2 linked regions of the Homo sapiens genome follow. The protein of the gene in region 1 interacts with the protein of each later gene in a pairwise test. Each region holds a gene or a part of one and is shown on either strand. Other genes may lie near its edges.

The links.
Region 2: the proteins of TEAD2 (region 1) and MAP2K5 come close enough for resonance energy transfer, tested with the Homo sapiens proteins (one large-scale study listed by BioGRID).

Annotation. Positions count from the first base shown.
Region 1 is NC_000019.10:49,344,413-49,349,796, forward strand, and holds part of TEAD2 (transcriptional enhancer factor TEF-4), read right to left. Parts: intron 4,648-5,384; coding exon of another isoform or gene 4,545-4,647; intron 4,434-4,544; coding exon 4,291-4,433; intron 2,952-4,290; coding exon 2,778-2,951; intron 1-2,777. UniProt on the Homo sapiens protein: Transcription factor which plays a key role in the Hippo signaling pathway, a pathway involved in organ size control and tumor suppression by restricting proliferation and promoting apoptosis.
Region 2 is NC_000015.10:67,804,703-67,808,555, forward strand, and holds the end of MAP2K5 (dual specificity mitogen-activated protein kinase kinase 5), read left to right. Parts: intron 1-1,943; coding exon 1,944-2,048; 3' UTR 2,049-2,412; downstream 2,413-3,853. UniProt on the Homo sapiens protein: Acts as a scaffold for the formation of a ternary MAP3K2/MAP3K3-MAP3K5-MAPK7 signaling complex.

The DNA of each region.
Region 1 (5,384 bases):
TGGGATTACAGGCGCACGCCACCATGTCTGGCTAATTTTTGTATTTTTAGTAGAGACAGGGTTTTGTCATGTTGGCCAGGTTGGTCTCAAACTCCTGAACTCAGGTGATCCACCCACCTAGGCCTCCCAAAGTGCTGAGATTACAGGCATGAGCCACTGTGTCCAGCCAATTCAACCTTTTTCCCTTGAAGCCCGCAACTCAAGAGTTCAGCCCCTTCCAAGGGCCTGGTTACTATGGCAGTTACTTCTTAGCAACCAGTTCAAGATGAATACCTCCCTCTAAGCCCCTCTCACTCTGGTTGCTAAGGCAAGTGGCTACTCCCTAGCAACGGGACCTCACGGAGCCTGAGGAGGCCTGACTCCTCCTCAGAGCACTTCCCCCTCGGCCAAATCTGAGAGGTCAGACTCCCTCCATGACCCCAGTGGCCAAGTGTGTGTAGACAGCTGGCCAAGTGTCACTAGGCCAAGTGGGGCCTAAGGAAGCCTAAGAGCTCATCACACCTTTGGTCTGAGTCACCTCCTTGCGAGGCGCACCTCTTCCTCTTCCTAACTTTAGTTGCTAACACTGTGCCAGGTCCGTCTTCTCAGGGGCCCGACTCCATCTCTCACCGTGGCAAAACCAAAGACCTTACCAGCTGCTCCTCTGAACCCCTTCAGCAGCTGGGCTTCCTAAGGGGGTGGCTCTCCAGTCCTGGGACCTGATAAGGCCTGTCTTAAGCCCCAACAATGTCTAAGCCCTCAGCTGCACATCCCCAGAGCAGTTTCAGGCTTCTGCTTCACATGGCAGAAAGCTCCAGAACCGTGAACAGCAAGCTCCAGAACAACAACACTCCCAGCAAGAACAGTAAAGTTCAGGCCCTCAGCAGGCCTTTCCTTCCTTTCCTTCCTTCCTTCCTTCTTTCTTTCCTTCTTTCTTTTCTTTCCTTTCTTTCCTTCTTCCTTTCTTCCTTTCTTTCTTTCGGCAGGGTCTCATTCTGTCACCCAGGCTGGAGGGCAGTGGCACAATCTTGGCTCACTGCAGCCTCCACCTCCCAGGCTTAAGTGATCCTCCTGCCTCAGCCTCCACAGAAGCTAGGACCACAGGTGCGCACCACCACACCCAGCTAATTTTTTTCATTTTTTGTAGAGTTGAGGTCTCACTGTGTTGCCCAGGCTGGTGTCAAACTCTTGAACACAAGCGAAACTCTCGCCTCAGCTTCCCAAAGTGCTGGGAAGATAGGAGTGAACCACCACACCTAGCCAGGCTTTCTTCTCAGAGACTAGATCCCTCCACCACCTTTGTTACTATAAGAACTAGCACCCCCTAAACATCCAGGCAACATTTATTGAGCCCAGGCCAGGCACTGTGGCTCACACTTGTAATCCCAGCACTTTGGGAGGCCAAGGTGGGTGGATCACTTGAGGTCAGGAGTTCGAGACCAGACTGGCCAACATGGTAAAACCCTGTCTCTACTAAAAATACAAAAATTAGGCCAGGTGCAGTGGCTCATGCCTGTAATCCCAGCACTTGGAGAGGCCAAGGTGAGCGGATCACATGAGGTCAGGAGTTCAAGATCAGCCTGGCCAACATGACGAAACTCCGTCTCTACTAAAAATACAAAAATTAGCTGGGCATGGTCGTGCATGCCTGTAATCCCAGCTACTTGGGAGGCTGAGGCTGGAGAATCGCTTGAACCCAGGAGGCAGAGGTTGCAGTGAGCCGAGATCGCACCATTGCACTCCAGCCTGGGCAACAAGAGCAAAATTCCATCTCAAAAAAAAAAAAAAAAAAAACAATAAAAGAAAATAAAACACATTTATTGAACCCCTGTAGTGTTAGTCATCATACTGGACACCAAACCAAGTAGCCCTAAGAAACACGCAAGATGGGCCCTCTTAGTCCCAATCATATAAATAGCAGCTGACACCAGGCGTCTATATAGGAAGTGCTCAATAAATGATTGCTACATAAATACAGGACTTGGACGGGTGCGGTGGCTCACACCTGTAATCCCAGCACTTTGGGAGGCCAAGGTGGGCAGATCATTTGAGGCCAGGAGTTCAAGACCAGCCTGGCCAACATGGTGAAACCCCGTCTGTACTAAATATACAAAAATTAGCCAGATGTGGTGGCGGGTGCCTGTAGTCCAATCTACTGGGGAGGCTGAGGCAGGAGAATCGCTTGAATCCAGGAGGCGGAGGTTGCCGTGAGCCAAGATACAGCCACTGCACTCCAGCCTGGGTGACAGTGAGACTATGTCTCAAAAATAAATAAATAAACAAATAAATGAATACAGGACTTGGCAAAGCCACTCCATGGCTCTTTTCATCACTTCCTCAAAGCCAGACATTCTCTAGCAACAAGGTCTGGTGAAACTGATGCAAAGCATCAGTCCCCTCTTTAGAAACCAGTCTCCACAAGTCCACTGGCTACGGGGAGGGGTCTTTCCTTAGCAGCACGGCTTGGTGCAGTCAGGTGGGGCACAGGGAAGCCTGGAACATGGCAAGCCCATGCCCAGGACCCTATTAGCTACATGGCCAGGTAACTCACCGTATTAGTTACATGTGGCAATGTCTAGTGGGATCCAGGGAGGCCCAGACACCTCCAACCCACCCTGGGGGCTGGCCTCCTCGGTGTTCCTTGTTGCAAAGGGGGCTGACACTCCAAGCCATGAGGACTGACTGGTAAGTCCCAGGCTGACCTGGTAGGGCCCGCGACAGATTCTCTCAGGGCCAGAGGCCTTTGCTGGGACACCACAGGATTTGTGAGCACTTTTGATTTTGCTGTGAGAACTCACCCAGAACTTGACCAGGAAGAAGGCATGGGGGGGGCCACGATCATATAGCTCTCGGAGGCCACCCTTTTTCTCAGGGAATTTGTCGTAGATCTGCCGGACGTCCACACTCTCGAGCGGCGGCGCTCCGGGGCTGGGGCAGTGCTGGCTGATGTGCACGAACAGGTGCCTCTGGTACTGAGGAGGGTTGGCCGTGGGTGAGAAGTCGGAGGTGAGCTGGATCTCCAGCCTGTGCTGCCTGAGCCCACCAAATGCCGTCACCATCCCCACAGCTCTGGCCAGCTGTTCCACACAGTCCACCCAGCACTGGGCCTGACTGCCACCCATCGTCCCCACTCCTGCTTCTGCACCCAGTCCCCTGCAGCCCTGCAGTCCTACAGTCCCCAACTCCCTGCCACAACTCCCCCAACTCCATCCTCACTGCCTCAGCCTCACCTCAGGCCTCCCACCCTCACCCCAGCCTCCAACCTCGCCTCTCCAGTTCATCCCTCATGTGGCTCCAGACCTGCCCCTGACCCTCCCCTGGTCATGGCCCTCCCATAGCTCCCCAGCAGCCCCAGGGCAAAGCTCACACCCCCTAGGCCTGGTCCTATATAGAACAGGTGCTCATAAATGGTCAATGGATGGAAGAGTGAATGAATGGGAATCCACAGAGGTCTTGTGGTTGATGTTTTGATTGATGTTTATATGGTGTGGCAGAGACTGCTACGTGTTCACAAATCCTGGTTCCTTTACACAGTGTGAAACTACATTTCCCAGGCCGCTTTGCAGTTAGGTGTGACCACATGACTAAGTTCTGGCCAATGGGATGTGACCAGGCCTGAGAGTCGACACATCCAAGTCAGATTCCTAAAACCTCCTGCACAATCTTGACTCTCTCCCTTCCTCCATCTGCTGGCCAGATGCAGAGACTCCATCAGCAGATTCTGAAGCCTTAGAAAATGGCAGAGCCACAAAATGGAAGGAGCCTGGATCCCCAAATCACTTGAGTCCAAGGCTCCTGCTGAACCTACATTGAAATGTTACATGCAACTTATCTGGCATTCAGTCCCTAAGAGTTAGGAGCTGTTTCTTCTAACAGTCGGCCCACTCCATCCTAGCCCAGGAGAAGCTCAAGCACAGAAATAAAATCTTTTCCAAGTTCCTAGTATGCATCACAAAGCCTAGTGAACAGTAGAAACTCAAACACGTTTGATAAATGAATGAATGATGTCCTGGGGAGCTTTTCTGACCTTCCCAACTTGTCACCCTATGACCTTCCAGTTCCTTTATGCTAGTAGTTCTCAAAGTACGGTCCCCAGACCAGCTGCATCAACGCACCTGGTAGCTTATTAGAAATGCAAATTCTCAAGCCCCACATCACATCTAGCAAATCAGAAAGCAATCTCTGTTTTAAGAAGCCCTTCAGATGATTCTGATACATGCTAAAGTTTTAAAACCATGACTTTATACATTCCCTTCCTGTCACCCTCTATATTTCAAAATCCCTCAGCGACTGTACCAAAATTTCACTCACAGAATCAACTGCATCTGGCGGTTCCACGAAGGCTGAGAACTCTACCAGCTGCAACCGGGCGGTGCCCAGGCCCCGAGCCTGCCAGGCTGGGGGCGATGGGGTAGGTGGGGGCAGGGGTGAGAGGGCTTGGGGGGGCTCGTACCCTAGAGAGAGAGAAGAAAGAACAATACAAATTGCTAACATTTATGGAATATATCAGGTACTGTTGTCTCTTGCCTGCCTCCACTTAGAAGCTGAAAAAGCTAAATACTCACTTTCCCAGCCTCCCTTGCAGTTAGAAGTGGCCATGTGACACAGTCCTAGCCAATGAGACGTTAGGGGAAATCTGCTGGGGGGCTTCTGGGAAGGAGTTTCTTCCTGAATGAAAAAGACAGAACTTTGGGAGGAGAAAGCTTTTGGCCCTGGCCAAGTCCTGCTTGGGAGATTGATATGGTTTGGATATTTGTCCCCTCCAAATCTCATGTTGAAATGTGATCCCCAGCTGGGCACGGTGGCTCACACCTGTAATCCCAGCACTTTGGGAGGCCAACGCAGGTGGATCACAAGGTCAGGAGATTGAGACCGTCCTGGCTAACATGGTGAAACCCTGTCTCTACTAAAAATACAAAATATTAGCTGGGCATGGTGGCACGTGCCTGTAATCCCAGCTACTTAGGAGGCTGAGGCAGGAGAATGGCTTGAACCCAGGAGGCGGGGGTTGCAGTGAGCCGAGATTGCGCCACTGCACTCCAGACTGGGGGACAGAGCGAGACTCTGTCTCAAAAAAAAAAAAAAAAGTGTGATCCCCAAGGTTGGAGGTGGGGCCTGATGGGAAGTGCTTGGGTCATGGGGGTGGATCCCTCATGAATGTCTTGGTGCCTTCCCCATAGTAACAAGTGAATTCTCACTCTTTGAGTTGATGTGAGCTGGCTGTTTAAAGGAGCCTGGCTTCGCTCTCTTGCTCCCTCTCACCATGTGACATAGTGGCTCCCCTTCCCCTTCCACCATGGTCCTAAGCTTCCTGAGGCCCTCACCAGAAGCATAGGCTGGCAACATGCTTCCTGTACAGCCTGCAGAACTGTGAACCAAATAAACCTCTTTTCTTTATAAATCAC
Region 2 (3,853 bases), on another chromosome or scaffold:
CTGTGTTACCCCGGGCGTGGGGGGAGGGGCCCGTCACTCGTGAGCACAGCTTCTCCCTTTGTTCTTTAGAAGGGCACGAGGTCGCCCCTCCTGAGCCTCCTGAGAGGAAGTGTGCACGCTTGGACTTTGGGAAGGATTTCCTCTGTCTAGGCAGCGATTTGGGAAAGCAGCCGTGGGGTGGGCATATATATGGGGAGGAGAACACTTGGAAGCCAAAATCCAGTCCTTCCTGGGCCTCTCCTGCTCAGGCCCCAGACCAAACCTCTGCCATCCACAGGGCCACACCCAGCCTGGCCTCCATGGCCCCTGTGCCCTTAGGGGTCCTGCAGGTGTGTCAGGAGCCTCCCAGAGTGCTATGAGCAGATTATGGGAAGTACCCAGCTGGGCTCCAGGCCTAGCTCCACCCCAGTCTCAGCGGGTCCCTGCCCGGGGTTGAGTGCCTTGGCATCTTCGAAGCCGAGTTTCCTCCTCCTCCTCGCAGCTCTGACAGTGCTCTGTGTGCCTCTGAGATAGACCCACGCAGGGTGTCCCCAGGGCAGGTTTCCCAACCTCGAATGAGAAGGTTGGGGGCGGGCACTGCATCAGCCTAGGATGAGGCGGCCTGAGCATTCTCCTGTCCCCCACAGTTCTGACCTGTGGTCCAGAGGGGCCATGCCGTCCCCTGCTCTACCCAGGCCTGGTCCTTGACAGCCCCTGCAGGCGCTGAGGTTGGGACAGCCAGGGTCCACATCCCTCCTGGCTTTGTGATGAGCTCGTGGCGAGGCCATGCGGCTCTTTAAGCAGCCTCTCTAGGGCTGCAGTCAAGGCTGGGGTGTGCTGGGAAAGCAACCCTGAAAGCCCAGCCTGTGCAGGTGGAGGACAGGCCCAAGAGGGGCTGAGGAAGCTGGAGGGAGGAGAGAGCTGGGGGGAGCGAGGAAGCGGCCGCTGGACAGGGAGGGAGAAGAGCTGGGGGCAGGCACATGGCGCCCTCATCTCCCCCATTCTCTGTCCTCGCTATGGCTCCCCGAGTCTCACCATGCAAGCTGCACAGTTTTGGGTAGGAGAGGAAGCCACTTGGTGTAAGTTCCTGGGCAAGAAGCCACTTGGTGAAGAGGAAGAAAAAGAAGGCTTTTCACTTTTCCTTTCACCTCTGACTGTGGCCTGGTAACCCTGGGGTTGTCCCTGCTTTTTTCTGACCTTCCCTGGGAATTCCCAGGAGGCCCTAAGATTGTGGATGTAAATCTTGGTGCTTCAGGACAGCAGAGAAGAGAACTGGCTAAATAGAATCTGGTCTGCCTGTGTGATAAGTGGGTTAGAACCAGAGGCAGGCCACAGGGCAACAGGGCCGGCCCCTCCAGAGTCCAGCCCCCAATGGAACTTCTCACCAGGAACCCAGAGATCCTGTGCACAGCCCAGCACATTCCTCCCCCTCCCCACTTCCCCTGACATGTTTGCCTTCCCTCCAATTGCAGGTGGTGACTTCTTTTTATAGGAGAGCTGTAGACAAAGGAGAAAGCTAAAAGGGATTGACATAGCCTCTGACGAGATGATTCTTTGGTCTCTGGGCACCAACTGAACCGGAAAGCTGGCAACACAGTGCCAGGCCTCGGCTGACTGGCCGTGCGAGTGATGCCGGGCAGAGGAAGGGCCAGGCAGAGTGTGCAGCGAAGACAGGCCCTCGCCCTTAAGCACCTTCCAGGCTAGTGCGAGCCTCAGGAAGAGGTGGCAGAGTCTGAGATGTGCCAGCCAGCACTCCACACGCTTGGTGCTGACTACCAGTATGTCACTGCTCGTCCCTGGGCCTCAATTATCTAGGCCGTGAAATGGAGCTGATAGCCTCCCTCGTTACCTCACAGGGTTACTGGGGAAAGAGATCAGATCCAGGCTGAGGGCAGGCCCTGGAAAGTACAATGAGCGCGGGAGTCCGAGGACTGCCTGTCACAGCCTCCTCCTCTTCCCCGCAGGGCCACCCGTTCATCGTGCAGTTCAATGATGGAAATGCCGCCGTGGTGTCCATGTGGGTGTGCCGGGCGCTGGAGGAGAGGCGGAGCCAGCAGGGGCCCCCGTGAGGCTGCCGCAGGGCACTGAAAGCCCAGGACCAGTAACCAAGGAGAACAACCCACCCGTCGCCCTTCTCCGTATGCTGCCTGCGCCAGAAGAGCTTTGCTGGGCCCTGGCTTCCCTGCCCTCGCCTTCACCTCTGTCAGCAGGTGGCCTTGCCTGGGGAGCCCCATGTGTGGCCCACCCCACCAGGCCATCCCCATACCTTCTGGTTTGAAGGCGCTGACACTGGCAGAGAGGTAAAGGGTGGGGCATTGAGAATGGAGGCTCCCAGGGTCCCTGCCCACTTCTGTTTTCCTAATGTTTTTCTCTATAAAGGGTCAGGCCCGTCAGCATCACTGATGGGAATAAAAGTATTAATGCTTTGTGACAGCCTCTGCCATAAGAGTTGTGTGGTCCAGGGGGTCTGTGACCCCCCCCAGGGCTGGGGGCAGGTGGGATCTCCACTTCAGCAGGGATGTGTGTGACAGTGCCTGCTGCCTGCCCAGGCACCTGCAAGCCTCCTGCTAGCTCCTCGCAGTTGTGCTGAGGCCCACAGCCCAGCTCCACTGTCAGATGAGAAACAGAAGCACGGAGGCATTGGGATGGGTCCCATGGCAAGGAGTAGGCCCGGATCTCAGGCCCCCGCCATGAGCTCCTTACTGGACTGCCAGACACATCCACCTGACCTGCGTGGCTGAGGAGGGAGTGGGCTGTTCTGAGAGGCCCTTCTCCACCCCAGCCCCACCCCTGCTCCTCACTGCCCTTGACCCCACACCTGCCACCTCTCACCTCTCAGGAAATCCCCTCAGCCACATGCCAGGTAAGCCTGGCTACCCCCATTTTGCAGGTGAGGAGCTGAGGCTCCAAGGGGCTCAGGATTCCACTTGAAGGTCTGAATAGCATCTCAACACGTCCAGAAGCAAATTCCTAATCCCCCACCCCACCCAGACCTCCTCCTACTGCTTTCCTGTGTCAGTAAATGGCATCTCCATCCTCCCAGTGCCCAAGCCATTTGGCACTCCCTAAAATGCCAGGACATGGCTTTGACTCCCTTTTCACACCCACATCCAGTCCTGCTGTCTTTGCCTTCAAAGAATATTGGTTCCATCACCCAAAATTCTCTCTTGACTCCAGCCAGTTGGTCTTCTTGCTGCTCCTTGAACATCCGGGCACATAACCACCCAGGGTCACAGCAGAGACGTCTAGCCATGGAAGGTTCACACTCCCTCCACAGGGTACCGCGTTGCTAGGGAGCCACTGCCCAGCTGGGCTTCCATCTCATGGGTGGGATTGGTGCTATTATAAAGGGTGAGTTTGGAGCCAGGCACAATGGCTCTCGCCTGTAACCCCAACACTTTGGGAGGTCGAGGGGGGAGGATTGCTTCAGCCCGAGTTCAAGACCAGCCTTAGCCAACATAGTGAGACCCTGTCTCTAACAAAACTTAAAAAATTAGCAGGGTGTGGTGGTGCATGCCTGTGGTCCCAGCTACTTGAGAGGCTGAGGTGGGAGGATCTCTTGAGCTCGGGAGGTTGAGGCTAAATGAGCCGTGATGGCACCACCGCACTCCAGCCTGAATGACAGTGAGACCCTGTCTCAAAAATAAATAAAAATAGTGAGCTAGGGATCAATTATTTTGATGGGGTTTTATATGTTACTAGCAGCTAGTATTATGCCAGCTAATGTAGGCCTTTGCATTTGGTACCTGGAGCATGCTTCCCTCATGCATCCACATGGCTCACCTCTATACCCTTCAGGTCTCAGCTCAAATGGCATCTCAGTGAAACCTACTTAACCACTCTAAAATCGCACCCCTCCCGCACCTGCCCTGGG